Homo sapiens: one gene and its partners. The protein of the gene in region 4 purifies or fractionates together with the protein of the main gene of each other region. This does not show direct contact. Each region holds a gene or a part of one and is shown on either strand. Other genes may lie near its edges.

What was found. The genes of interacting proteins can lie anywhere in the genome.
Region 1: the proteins of SLC60A1 (region 4) and MON2 purify together in Homo sapiens (affinity purification with mass spectrometry; 2 studies listed by BioGRID and IntAct, with this or other methods). This does not show direct contact.
Region 2: the proteins of SLC60A1 (region 4) and MMS19 purify together in Homo sapiens (affinity purification with mass spectrometry; 2 studies listed by BioGRID and IntAct, with this or other methods). This does not show direct contact.
Region 3: the proteins of SLC60A1 (region 4) and XPOT purify together in Homo sapiens (affinity purification with mass spectrometry; 2 studies listed by BioGRID and IntAct, with this or other methods). This does not show direct contact.

Annotation. Positions count from the first base shown.
Region 1 is NC_000012.12:62,532,751-62,536,370, forward strand, and holds part of MON2 (protein MON2 homolog), read left to right. Parts: intron 1-2,094; coding exon 2,095-2,176; intron 2,177-2,774; coding exon 2,775-2,959; intron 2,960-3,620. UniProt on the Homo sapiens protein: Plays a role in regulating membrane trafficking of cargo proteins. Together with ATP9A and DOP1B, regulates SNX3 retromer-mediated endosomal sorting of WLS away from lysosomal degradation.
Region 2 is NC_000010.11:97,470,878-97,474,497, forward strand, and holds part of MMS19 (MMS19 nucleotide excision repair protein homolog), read right to left. Parts: intron 1-3,620. UniProt on the Homo sapiens protein: Key component of the cytosolic iron-sulfur protein assembly (CIA) complex, a multiprotein complex that mediates the incorporation of iron-sulfur cluster into apoproteins specifically involved in DNA metabolism and genomic integrity.
Region 3 is NC_000012.12:64,414,317-64,417,936, forward strand, and holds part of XPOT (exportin-T), read left to right. Parts: intron 1-590; coding exon 591-673; intron 674-2,381; coding exon 2,382-2,438; intron 2,439-3,620. UniProt on the Homo sapiens protein: Mediates the nuclear export of aminoacylated tRNAs. In the nucleus binds to tRNA and to the GTPase Ran in its active GTP-bound form. Docking of this trimeric complex to the nuclear pore complex (NPC) is mediated through binding to nucleoporins.
Region 4 is NC_000001.11:205,575,413-205,579,032, reverse strand, and holds part of SLC60A1 (major facilitator superfamily domain-containing protein 4A), read right to left. Parts: intron 1-3,620.

The DNA.
Region 1 (3,620 bases), on a different chromosome or scaffold from region 4:
TCACCCTGACTTCTCAAGTGTTAACCACTTTCCCACATTTACCTTACCATTTTCTTGAATTATATACATGTGACTATACTTTTTTCTGACCTATTTATAGAAAAAGTTGCAGACATGATGCCGTATTACTACCCTTTAATGCATCAGTGTGTATTTTTTCAAAATAAGGTTAGTCTCCTGTGTATCATAGTACAATCACCATCAGAAATTTAACATCAATACAATATTATCATCTAACTCCAGGTCTCATTCAAATTTTGCCAGTTGCCCTAGTGATGTCCTTTTATGTGTTGAATTTAGTTGCCATGTCTCAACTTGGAAGTTTCTTAGTTTTTCCTTGTTTTATATGACCTTACTTTTTTGAGTACAAGTCAGTCAGTTTGAGTTTGTGTTGTGTTCCTTCATAATTACATTCAGCTTATTCATTTTTGACAGGACTGGCACAGAAATGTTGCTGTGCTGTACTTACTGTATCATTACATTAGGAAGCATACTACAGTATCAATTTGTGTCATTATTGGAGATGCTCACTTCTATGAGTTGGTTAATACAATGTCAGCCTGGTTTCTTCAGTGTACAGTTAATTATTAACTTTTTGTGGAAAAATACTTTCAGATTGCTACTACAAAAGAGTGCTTTCCCTTCTGCATTTTTTTATTTTTTAAAAATTATTCACTTATATTAGTGTAGATTCATGGATTCCTATTTTATTCAGAGGATTATAGTCTTTATTATTATTTGGTTTGATGCTCAGATTGTTCCCAACATGGCCAATGGGACCTCTTTCAAGATGACCCGTGTGTCCTTTGGACATGTCCCATGCCCTTTTGACATTCTCTGAGCACTTCCTATTTGATAGAACAAGATGTTCCAGGCTGATCTTGGATGATTCTTGTCCATCCCAGGTGTCAGTCATTTCTCCAGGAAGTCCTGGTTCCTTTTAGTGGAGAATAGTATTGAAACGAACACAGGTATACTAGGTATGCTTTTCACCACTTGGATAGGAAATACATAGCCACATACACACACCCCCACACACAAGCACACGTCTCTGTACATTTCTAAAATGTCTGTTTCTCTATATTGAATTACCATGACATCACACTAGTTTCTTCAGTTCCAGTTCAGTACCACAAGGTTTATTTTTAACTTTCTGTATTTGTAATTCCCTTCTCCAACAGTGTTGGAACCTGCTCACATTTTGCTCAGTGTATTTACTTATTTGCTTGATTCTCAGTGTATGTAATCAGTCTCCTGGCTGAGCCAGTTTGTTACACTGCGCCCTGCCCTCACTCCAACTGGTCACACAGGCTGAGAAAGTTTGGGTTGATGAAGGCAAAGGGAAAGGAAAGGATATCAGCTGGGCATAGTGGCATGTGCCTATAATCCCAGCTACCTGGGAGGCTGAGGCAGGAGGATTGCTTGTGCCCAGGAGTTTGAGTCCAGTCTGAGTAACATAACAAGACCCTGTCTCTTAAAAAAAAAAATGGCTGGGCGTGGTGGCTCACGCCTGTAATCCCAGTAGTTTGGGAGGCCGAGGTGGGTGGATCACGAGGTCAGGAGTTTGAGACCAGCCTGACCAACATGGTGAAACCCTGTCTTTACTAAAAATACAAAAATTAGCCAGGTGTGGTGGCGTGTGTCTGTAATCCCAGCTACTCAGGAGGCTAAGGCAGGAAAATCTCTTGAACCCAGGAGGCGAAGGTTGCAGTGAGCCAAGATCATGCCACTGCACTCCAGCCTGGGCAACAGAGCAAGACTCCATCGCAAAAAAAAAAAAAAAAAAAAAAAAATATATATATATATATATATATATATTTTATATATATATATAAAATTTAACGTGTACAGAAAGATCTTACCATAGATATTTTACAACAACTTATTTTTAAGACTTCTTCAAGCCTGAAACTATAGTACGGCTTCTGAGTTTTCGTTCTTTTAGATTTTTAAATACTGAATATTAGATTTAATAATTAAGTTGTTAATGGAATATTTGACATATTGTCTGGGAAAATTTTAGAATTTCACATATTAATACATATTGTGCTATCTATAATTAAAATTAAATATTGTATGTTTTTTTCCTTTAAGTTAGTAGGGCTGTTTGGGAAGAAATGGTGAATGCCTGCTGGTGTGGTCTTCTTGCTGCACTCTCACTCCTTCTTGATGCCAGGTATTAAGTCTTTGTAAGTTTTATATTGAACTGTGTCAGTTAAAAAAAACACATTAAAATGGTTTACTTACATTTGTCCCTAGAATTATTTTCTAATATTAGTTTTTTATATGTGTGAAACATTATTCTTTTTCCCTCATCCCCCTTCCTCATTCTGTCCTTGCCCTGCCCCAAGCCACCAGAATTGTCATGATGTTTTAATGGAAAATACAGTCCTAAAATTACAGAATGCCTTTTTCATTTCAAGACTTACAACTACTTTTGCAATTATGATTATATTTAATTTCTTTGTTCTTTTTCTTTAGGATTTAAAAATTTACTGGTTTCAAAATGCTTGATATTTTAAGCTAAATCTTTATGTTCTTGGTCATTTTCTTCAGTAATAAATACATGTATTATTATTCATTGCTTTTACCCAGTTCAAATTTTTGAGGTTATGTTAATAGATTAAAATTCCTTCTTAAGTATATTGGTAATATTTTGACAATATTTTTGTATAGATTTTCTTAAAATGTCACTGAATACTTAATTCCACATCATGCTTTACAATGTAATTAAAAATAAGTTAATCAGATTAAATAAAATACTTTCTTTTCAGCACAGATGAAGCTGCCACTGAGAATATTTTAAAAGCTGAACTGACTATGGCTGCTCTTTGTGGAAGACTGGGCCTTGTAACTTCAAGAGATGCCTTTATAACTGCAATATGCAAAGGTTCCCTGCCTCCCCATTATGCTCTTACTGTATTGAATACCACCACTGCAGCTACACTTTCCAACAAATGTAAGACAGGCTTACTCAAAATTCTCTCTATGTAGTGGGATGATATGGTGTAGACAGAAGATTATAAACATCTGAGTTTAAGTCTCTGCTTTTTCACATACTGACTGTGTGACCTTGGGGAAATTAATGTCCCTGAGAGCTCTTTAAAAATATGGGGTGGGGGGTGGGGGGTGGGCATGGGATATCCAAAAATCCAGAATCTAAAATGCTGCAAAATCTAAAACTTGTTGAGCACCAACATGACAAAGGAAAGGCTCATTGGATAAGTATATAATGTGAATAGGTATATAATGCAAACATAAGTATTTACAAATATATTATGCAAATAAATGCATAAGTATATATAATATAAATATTCAAAAATCTGAAATCGGAAACAGTTGTGATCCTAAGCATTTCGGATAAGGGATACTCAACTTGTAATACCAATTTTAAACAATAATTGTGAGAGGAAAATAAGATAAATCTGGAAGTCCTTTGTAAACTATGAGATACCATTGAAATGGTGATTGTTATTTTTTTTTAATGGAACTAGTAGAACAGTAATGTTTGTAACCACTTAGGTTAAACTTACATTCAAAAATTTATTTTCTTGTTGAATTCTTTAAGAATACTTGTTTGTTACATGTAATATAAATTTCAGTGTAATATTTAGGGTTTT
Region 2 (3,620 bases), on a different chromosome or scaffold from region 4:
GGCTGTGGGTTTGTGTAACATTTCAGACCACCTTGAACACAGGCTCGAACCTGGTAACCCTGCAGAACAGGGTGATACTCATACCCAATCAGGGAAGATAGTAAGATAATGAGGCCCCAGCAAGAAGACTTGCTTGATCTTAGGTACTCCTTGGGAACTTTTGTCTTTAGGCATTTTAAAAAATCTGATTACACATTTTCTATCATTTCACCACTCAGAAATAAGCATGCTTAACTTTCTGGTGTATTCCTTTCTTCGCTGATATATATTGTTACTATGTGCTAGTATATACTGTTTCCATATAAAATATATATATACTTAAAAATCATTTTGTACATGTGGTTTTTAATTTTTTTCACTTAACATATTAAGAACATTTTTATGGTATTATTCTTTCATAGCATTAGTTTTAGTGGCTATGATTTCATTTTGTGGTTGTACCAGTTTATCTAGATAATTCCTTGTTGATGGACATTTCCATTTTTTTCACCCTTATAAAAAGCTGTAATTCTGAAAACAGAAAGCCTTGATGGTTTCTGTACCAAGACGACAGACTGAAAACATATATCAGGTTTTCCTTTTCCTCTTTGCAAACTCCACCAAAAACATAGTAAAAGAAGGGATTTACTATTATTATTATTATTTTTTTTTGAGACAGAGTCTCACTCTGTCACCCATGCTGGATTGCAGTGGCTTGATCCTAGCTCAGTGCAACCTCCACCTCCTAGGTTCAAGTGATTCTCATGTCTCAACCTCCCAAGTAGCTGGGGTTACAGGCGCACCAACACACCTGGCTAATTTTTATATATTTTTTGTAGACATGGGGTTTCATCATGTTGGCCAGGCTGGTCTGGAACTCCTGACCTCGAATGATCCACCCACCTCAGCCTCCCGAAGTGCTGGGATTACAGGCGTAAGCCACCGAACCTGGCCTGGTTTCTGTTTTCATGACTGGACTTTGATAGAAAAGATAAAACTGTGGAATTCTCTTATAAAGTAACAAAAAGACAGAGGTACAAAATAGAAAACAAAAGGTCAGAAAATCAGAGGTCCAACAGAAGATTAATGAGAGTTCCAAAATGAAGGAACAGAGAAAAGAGAGAGGAAGAAATCATCAATTAAAGAATTCAAGAAAAATTTACAGGACTAATGGACACGGGTTACCAGATTGACAGGGCCTACTAAGTACCCAACACAGTACATGAAATAGACCAATACTAAGGCACATCACTGTGAAGTTTCAATGTATCGGGGTGAACCAAACATCAGTTTATAGAGAGGAAGAAAAAAATGGTAAATACAAAAGTTTATGAAACAGAAGAAATTCAGACTTCTCCACAGCAAATGAAAACTAGATAACTAGGCTTATTTATTTATTTGAGATGGAGTTTTGCTCTTGTTACACAAGCTGGAGTGCAATGGCACGATCTTGGCTCACTGCAGCCTCTGCCTCCAGGATTCAAGCGATTCTCCTGCCTGTCTCCCGAGTGGCTGGGATTACAGGCTCACGCCACCATGCCCGGCTAATTTTTTTGTATTTTTAGTAGAAATGGGGTTTCACCATGTTAGCCAGGCTGGTCTTGAACTCCTGACCTCAGGTGATCCGCCTGCCTTGGCCTTTCGAAGTGTTGAGATTACAGGCATGAGCCACCACGCCCAGCCAATAACTAGATTTAAATGTAGCAATGCCTTCAAAATCTTAGGAGAAAATAATTTCCATTTTTTTTTTGTTTTTGTTTTTGGTTTTTTGGTGACTGAGTCTGGCTCTGTCTTCCAGGCTGGAGTGCAGAGGCATGATCTTGGCTCAATGCAACCTCTGCCTCCCCAGCCCAAGCCATCCTCCCACCTCCACCTCCCGAGTAGCAGGGGCTACAGACTCGACCACCACGCCCAGTTAATTTTTGTATTTCTTATAGACAAGGTTTTGCCATGGTGCCCGGGCTGGTCTTGAACTCCTGAGCTCAAGCAATCCACCTGCCTCAGCCTCCCAAAGTAGCGGGATTACAAGCGTCAGTTACTGCACCTGGCCTCTTTCTCAGGTGCAATCATAGTGCACTACAGCCTCAAACTCCTGGCCTCAAGTGATTGTTCTGCCTCAGCCTCACAAGTAGCTGGGACTGCAGACATGTGCAACTGCATCCAGCTAGAATTCTCTTTTTATTTATTTTTTTTTTTGAGATGGAGTTTTACTCTTGTTGCCTAAGCTGGAGTGCAATGGCGTGATCTCGGCTCACTGTAACCTCCGCCTCCCAGGTTCAAGCAATTCTCCTGCCTCAGCCTCCCAAGTAGCTGAGATTACAGGCGCCTGCTACCACGCCTAGCTAATTTTTGTATTTCTAGTAGAGACGGGATTCCACCATGTTGGTCAGGCTAGTCTCGAACTCCTGACCTCAAGTGATCCACCCGCCTCGGCCTCTTAAAGTGCTTAGATTACAGGTGTGAGCCACTGCGCCCGGCCTAGAATTTCTATTCTTGAATTACATGCCCATAATGTCAAAAATGAGAGACAAGATTGAAGGCATTTAAGGGTTACAAATCTAAAAAATTCTCACTTCTTCATACATTCTCTCAGGAAAATACTAAAGGAAGTACACCATCAAACTGAGGGGGTAAACCACAAAATGAGGAATATGTGAACTCAGGAAACAGGAGATCTGATCCAAGAAAAAGGATAAGGGAATCTAGGATGACGGTGAAGGAAGAACCAATATCTACTCTGCATTAGGAGTAAAAATCAACCTGTTGACATTGTTTGGCTAAGAATGGTTTTAACATTTTTAATGTTTGAAACAAACCAAAAGAATATCTTGTGACAAGTGAAAATTATATGAAATTCAAAGTTTAGTGTTGATAACAAAAGTTCTATTGGGATATAGCTACTGTAGCTGTTCCTGTGTCTAAGGCTGTTTTTGTGCAGTAACAGCAGAGTTGAGGAGACCATATGACCCACAAAGCTACTGTCTGGCCTTTTATAGAAAAAGTTGGCCAGGCATGGTGGCTTATGCCTGTAATCCCAACACTTTGGGAAGTCGAGGCAGGTGGATGGCTTGAGCCCAGGAATTCAAGACCAGCCTGGGCAACATGGCAAAATCCTGTCTCTATAGAAAAATACAACAATTAGTCGGGAGTAGTGTCATGTGCCTATGGTTCCAGCTACTCGGGAGGCAGGGGTGGGAGGATCACCAGAGTACCAGAGTCCAGAGAGGTGGAGGCTGCAGTGAGCTGTGATGGTGCCACTACACTCCAGCCTGCCTCAAAAAAAAAAAAAAAAAAGGGAAAGAAAAAGTTTGCCAACCTCTTCTTAGAGTGAGCATATAAGCATAGTGAAGAAACTGAACCTTAAGCTCATCAGATCCACTATGATGGCACACAATACTGATTTGTGGCTGGATATGTGGCTCACACGTGTAATCCCAGCACTTTGGGAGGCCGAGGCAGGTAGATCAGTTGAGGTGAGGAGTTCGAGACCAACCTGGACAACATGGCAAAACCCCATCTCTACTAAAAAATATAAAAAAAAAATTAGTCAGGCATGGTGGCACGTACTGTAATCCCAGCTATTCAGGTGGCTGAGGCACAACAATCACTCGAACCCCGGAGGCAGGGGTTGCAGTGAGCAA
Region 3 (3,620 bases), on a different chromosome or scaffold from region 4:
TTTCAGTTACTTAATATTTTTCAAAATTCATATCATGCACTTGTACTCCAATTTTAATCTCTTTAGGGAACTTACATGATATAATTAAAGACTTGAAATACTCTCCTGTGTAACAGTAGATCAGATAAGGTACACAGTATGTTTTATCTTTTATAATCACCGCTTTAATAGCAGATGTGCTATTAAATAGGAAAAGTGCCCTTCACGTGCCATTTTATAATTGCATATTATAAAATGATCACACCCTTAACTCATCCTCTGCAATTTCTCAGTAGTATGGCACTTGACAAAGCACTTGCTCTCATTCTTCATAATAACCCCATGAAGGCTGCGGGGCATTTTTGTGTTGTTGCTGCTGTAAGAAAACAGGTTTGATTATCTAACTGATGGAATTTATATTTATTTAACCTATTTTTAGGAATGACCCCAAGTTGCATATATTCGGAAGCCTGCATTTAATGTTTTAACTGTTTTTCTATTAAGTTTACTGATTTGTTATAGGTTTGCAACTCTCAGAATATTTTGTTTATATTAGCAGGGCATTGAGATTGTTTATTCTAAATGCATTTTTTTGTTTTGCAATCTTATAGGCCCTGGCCTATTTTGAGCAGTTAAAAATTTCCCCAGATGCCTGGCAGGTGTGTGCAGAAGCTCTAGCCCAGAGGACATACAGGTAATTAAAAACAAAATTTGCATGACAATTTAAATTTCTGTGGACATGACAGGACTGTGAAATTTACCTGTATTTGGAAAGTGTTTTCATAAAAACATTTTATGACTTTTTTTTTTTTTTGCAAAGCCATTAACATATAGTCATTCCATGTAGAAATGAGAAAAGTAGTAAACCCAGTTTGGCCATTTCAGAATTAACTTTTCAGTAAAACCATCCTTTGGTATATATTGTGTACCTGTCACCAGATCCCAGCTGGAATAAAGTGCAGTAAAAACTTCCTTATCTTATGATTGAGGGTGATAACTGCTTTCCTAAAACTTTGGTAAAGACGGTGATTGTAAATGATATATATCTTAATTTTAAAATTATTTATTTATTTTATTATTATTATTATTATTTTCTTGAGATGGAGTCTCGCTTTGTCGCCCAGGCTGAAGTGCAGTGGCGCAATCTAGGCTCACTGCAAGCTTCGCCTCCTGGGTTCTTGCCATTCTCCTGCCTCAGCCTCCTGAGTAGCTGGGACTACAGGTGCCCATCACCATGCCCGGCTAATTTTTTTGTATTTCTTTTTGGTGGAGACAGGGTTTCACTGTGTTGGCCAGGATGGTCTCGATCTCCTGACCTTGTGATCCGCCCGTCTCGGCCTTCCAAAGTGCTGGGATTACAGGCGTGAGCCACCGTACCCGGCCTATATCTTAATTTTTAATTTTAACTTAAGGTATATAATCATTCGGTGACCAATCTTTTAATATTGGACCACAGTCTTTATCTTTGTATACTAACTAGCATTCACTTTATTCGTAGGTTGGTCACACCTGTAACCCATCCTCTACAATTTCTAGCATGGGTCTCTGTACAATGAGTGACGATCCATAGATTTTTAAGATATTTGTCCCCGCCTCTCAAGTCTTCTGGTTATATAGGCCATGTCAAATATGTACAAGATTTTTTCCTTCTGCAGTGTGGCTTTCTATGAAATCTTTCTAAAGCATTCAACTAACTTTTTACGGAAATAGGAACTCTCTTATACTCACTTCATTGGCAGATTGTTGGTCTCTAGAAGATCTTTGTCAGTGTTTATAGCTGGCTAACTGCAACTCTGCCACTCCCCTAGAAAGACAGTTGGAAGTGGGTAATTGGTGTGTTGACTTTTGCCCCCATCTTGTATAAGCAAGGGTACCATATTTGTAATTTAGTGTCCTGTACGAAACTTTGAAGTTGGACTGACAGTCCATGTGGCCCTGCTTGTTTTGGATTTGGCTACAATAGAACTACTGGGGTTGAATTTTAAGCAGGACTTGGACGACCATCTTTACTTTCACTCAGACTCTGTCTGTTCTGCCATTTGTAATTTTACACCTAACCTGTTATTGTAAAATGAAGGGACTGTTCCAGGAATCTTAATATCTGGAATTTAGAGGGATGGTTTGCTGCTTACAAAGCATTGTATTCAAGGTGCATCTTAATATCTTGGTTAGTTTGCTTGTCAGATTTAATGGAAATTTTAAATATTGTGTAATATTTAGAGTTCTCATAGCTTTTTAAGTAAATGGATTTTAATGTCATAAAATGAGACCAGTAAGTATGAAACAAGCCAAAGGTCTAGTTTGAGAAACTTTTCTGCTGTATTACTCATTACTATTTTGCCTTTGATTTGTTTTCCTCAGTTCATATTCTGCTTATCTCATTTTCTTTTTTTCTTTTTCAGTGATGATCATGTGAAGTTTTTCTGCTTTCAAGTACTGGAACATCAAGTTAAATACAAGTAAGGCTTTTCTTACTGTTTTGACTCAGATTTGCGGGGAGAGGTCATTTTTTTAATTTAATGTTTTTCTTCCATAAGGAAACCATAATACAGGTTGTAAATTCACAGTGTATATGTTATATCCAGGTTATAGATACGTTTTGATGTACCCCAAAGTGTTTTAAAAGTGCTGAGTTGGCCAGGTGAGGTGGCTCTCGCCTGTAATCCGAGCACTTTGGGAGGCTGAGGCCGGTAGATCACTTGAAGTCAGGAGTTTGAGACTAACCAGCCTGGCCAACATGGTGAAACCCCGTCTCTACAAAAAATACAGAAACTAGTCAGATGTGGTGGCATGCACCTGTAATCCCAGCTACTCAGGAGACTGAGGCACGAGAATTGCTTGAACCTGGGAGGCGGAGGTTGCAGTGAGCCGGGATCACACCACTGCACTCCAGACTGGGTGACAGCGAGACTCCGTCTCAAAAATAAAAAAAGTGCTGAGTTTGTTGGTTACACATAAAAATCCAAGGCTGGGCGCAGTGGCTCATGCCTATGATCTCAGCACTTTGGGAGTCCAAGGCAAGAGGATCGTTTGAGCTCAGGAGTTTGAGACCAGCCTAGGCAACATAGTGAGACCTCATCTCTACAAAAATTTTTTTAAAAAATTAGCCAGGCATGATTGCGCGCTTCTGTATTCCCAGCTACTGGGGAAGCTGAGGCCAGGAGGTTGAGGCTCCAGTGAGCCATGATGGTGCCACTGCACTTCAGCCTGGGCAATACAGCAAGACCTTGTCTCAAAAAAAAAAAAAAAAATGAAAATCCAGATATTTCACAGAAAAATCTAGATTTCCAGCTTTTCTGGAAAAGTCAGAATATCTGGTAACACCAGGCCTGTTTTTCTACATGACAATTCTCTCTTAGAGTTAAGTAGCTGCATGGGCACTTGTGTTCAGAATCTCTGACTTACTAATTAAGCAAAATAACAAATCACTACTGAGAGGATTCCTAGTTCACCTATTGGTTTATTCTGTAGATCACAGACCACAAAACATTTTCATTCGAAAAATTGTGTAGCCATCATTTGTTTCAACATGAACAGAATCACAAATTAAAGATTGATATTGATGCCCTACCTGCCACTCTTGTCCTTATCTTTAAAGCAATGATGAGTGGCATTATCAGTTTATGTTAGGGAACTTCAGA
Region 4 (3,620 bases):
GGGGGAGGGCCTGCTACCCTATCAGTGAATGAATGAATGATTGGATGGAGTGTCTAAGGCTCTGTCAAGGTCTTTTTTGGGACACTCTGCCCAATAACCAGACTCTCAGAGAAAGGATAAAGACTTGTATTTTCTGAGACCAGTCTGAAAGTCTAATGTCAGAGAGGAGAGATTGGGCAGCAGGCAGGTTCTGGAGGTTGTAGAGGAACTTTCTCAGATTATGAAAAGGGAGAGAGCCCCCCACCCCATCAGCCTCCAGTGTGGCTGCTGGACCTGGAAAGGTGGGAGCTGAGAGAGGGGAGGGGGAAAGGCCTCTCTGAGTTTCACACTGAAAAAAAAAGAGGAGGGCCCCAGTGATCACTCAGGCTGTCTTCCCAGAGCTTCTGCCCCTGACCCCCTTGGCTCTTGGCCTTGGCCCTCAGCCATCTCATCTTGCCCCATCTTTGATTAAATCCTCTATCAGAATGGCTCTGCTGATAGAGCAGTTCGTTACTTTCTCCTTTCTTGTTTCCAGGCTGATCTGCTGGGGAGATTACCGATCATGACAGTCATGACCCCAGCATGTTCCCAGCTCAGAACTCATGGGGGAGGAGAGGGGGACCAACCTCAAGGCCAGCTGTTAGGAGATGGAGGGAGAGTGCGTCATGGGGAGGCAATGCTAACACACACCGTGGGCTGATAAAACAGCAGGCTGCTCATCATAGTTCTCTCTCTTTCCCCTCCCTTTCCCTGGACAAGACAGACTAGGCAGCCTCCTAGGTGGCCTGACTTCAGGGATAGCCAGAGAGTCCCCTGTCTGCACTCTCAGAGGTCCCTCTACTGACACGGGTACCAGGACATGACATTTCTACCACCTCACTCACCACTTTGCGTAAGCAGGGATGCCCCAAGGCAAGTGCAAAAACTCTCTCGAAGAACTAGCTCATTATCATTATTGTCTTTCAATCCTGCAGGAAAGTGAAGTCATCCATCCTGCAGCAAAGTCCTGAGGGGAACGGGACCTGGGATCAGTAAACTGACAGGGGCAGGGGCTGCGCAGAGGTATGGGAAAGGAAACCAGGATGATAGCGAGTACTACGGTCTGCTGACAACTGCTAACGTTTGTCACTTGGTTCATATGACAAGGCTATGAAGCAGGCTTTGTCGTTGTGCCCATTTGACCAGTGAGTAAACTCGGGCTGAGAAAAGCTAAGATAGCAGCAGACAGAGCCTGAACTCTAACCAAGGTCTTCTGGCTTGATAGTCCCTATGCTATGCTGCTTTTCCAGGGAGGAGTGTGTGTGCGTGCACATGTGGGTGCATGTGTATGGGTATGTGACTGAGTTACTCGCTAATGGCTCCACTCAGAAGGTGCAAATGCAGGAGGGGAGAGGAAGGAGCCACGGACCCAGCCAGGCTGGAGAGGGGAGTGCCAGCCGAGAATAGGAGGCCAGATTCTGCAGAGCGTTGAATGGCAAGGCTAGGAAGCACTGGAGAGCAGCTGCGGTCTCTAGAACATGCGCCTCTAACACCCCTCTGCGGGGGTTAGCAGAGATCCACATGCTCGCGAGCATCACTGCTGGCTCCACCACCAGCTTCCCCAGGCATCTGCCTCTGCCTGTTCATTGTGGAAGCCATGCCTGGCCCCATGTTCGGCTCTGCAGAGACGCTCAACCCAGGTTCCTGGACGTGGCTAGTGACCGGCGCAGTGCTTGGGGAACGCTTGTCTTGCCAGCCCACATGGGGTGGCCTGGTAGAAGGGACTGGGCACTGCTGGGAGGCCGATGTGGGAGTTTTGCTAGTTTATCTGATAGGGGAGACAGAGATAGAGGCAGAGAAAGAATCATGTAGGGACGGGTTGCCAGGAAGGTGCCCGGTGTACAGTGGGGATTGGGAAAAAGAGAAGGGGTCAGTAAGGGCTGGAAGGGGTCAGGAAGCCCTGTCCAGGTCTCATCTCTGTCCTGTTCACTGCTGTTTGTCTCCTTTCACCTGTCATTCTTGAGAAGGACACTAGGTGCCCACTGGAGGTATGGTTTGTCCCAGGCTCAGCCACAGGCAGGAGGGAGGGATAAAGAGAGAAAAGACGGAAAAGGGAGGTTGGAGAGAACCACGCCTGGGAAATCCCCTCCCTGCATCTCCCTGGACTGTGATTTTAGTTTGATAGGCCTGGAGGTTAGGGCGATGGAGACCTGTTCCCAATAAATGGGGACATCTGTATCACAGGAAATCTTGTCTGTAGATCCCAGGCTGCCCACCCTCCCCAGTTGCTTCCATAGGGCTGTGCCTGGGCATTCCAAACATCAGCCTGAACAAATTTCTTTAGAATGATATGCTGTTGCCAAGGAAAAGGAAGTCCCAGACACATCCCAGAGCCAGACCGAAATACATTTATTGCCTGTTTTAAATGGCTTGGTCAATAGCCCCTTCTAGGAATGTGGATAATTAAAAATTATGGAATAACCATGTCAAAACAGTTTTGGCATCCAGGATGGAGTGCGATCTGGAATCAGAATACTGGGTTCTAGGCCCACCTTGGCCACTTCCCAGAGATGTGGCTTGGGCAAGCCACTTATGCTTAGCCCCTCTGAGCCTCAGTTTCCTCTGCTGTAAAATGGGGATAACAAGCTCTGCATGAGGTTGGGGCTGCCACGAGGAGTCCATGTGATGTGACATTTCATCCTCCTTTGCTCACTCTCTGGGATTTTCCCCTGGCCACTTGCCACCCCTCCCAGGTGCTCACTGCCTCCCTGCTGGCCCTGGCTTCCCCAAAGAGCAATGTTGGGCCCAGAGAACTGCACTGAGCTGACAGGGTACAGAGACCAGTGCCAGCTCCCAGATTCTACCCTCCCAGGCCTGCCCCTATTCCTGCTGCAGTGCCCTTTGGGGTGACCCTGGGAGGCTGGCCCAGGAACTGTTGGAGGGAGATACCCCTGCTCCTACCTCTTGTCCCCCGCCCCACTCACTCTCCACCCTGGGCAGCGTCCCAGCTAAGGTGGCAGCAATGACATGAGTCCTGTCCCTCATTTTACAGATCAGGAAACTGAGGCCCAGATAGGGGAAAAGAGAGGAGTAGAACTGAGCCAGGATCCAAAGTCTTGGCTCCCAACCCAGGCAAAGCCAGCAGAGTGGCAGAGTGGCATTGGTCTTCCCTCCCCTGGTCCTGGGCTCACAGGTTAATTCAGGCCAATTAGAGAAAGAGCCTCACTTTCCCCAAGGCCCAGAGAGACCCAAGATATAGCCTGGACAGTCTGGAAAACCTACTTCAGGAAGTCTCAGAAATGACCAAGTTACTTATTAATGGCTCCACACAGAAGGTCTAAGTGGGAGAGGGAAGAGGAAGGAGCCTGAGTTCTCCCCCAGGTGAGCTGTGGCTCTGCTGGAGCTGCCTGCCCAGCCCCTGTTGCTGGGTGACCTTGAGCTGCTGCTGCCCCCTTCAGCCCCATGCTCTGCCTTACCCACAGGGCATACATGATCACTTTGACCTGGCCTTGCCTTGAGCACCTGTTCTTGCCTTCCTGGTTCTGTGAAAAGAGGAGGGAATAGTTGGCTCTGAAACAGGGGAAGGGCCTGAGCAGTAAGATGCCAGGCAGCCCATTCCTGCCTGCCACCCCAGGGGTGGGGAAGAATGCTGCTGAAGCCCA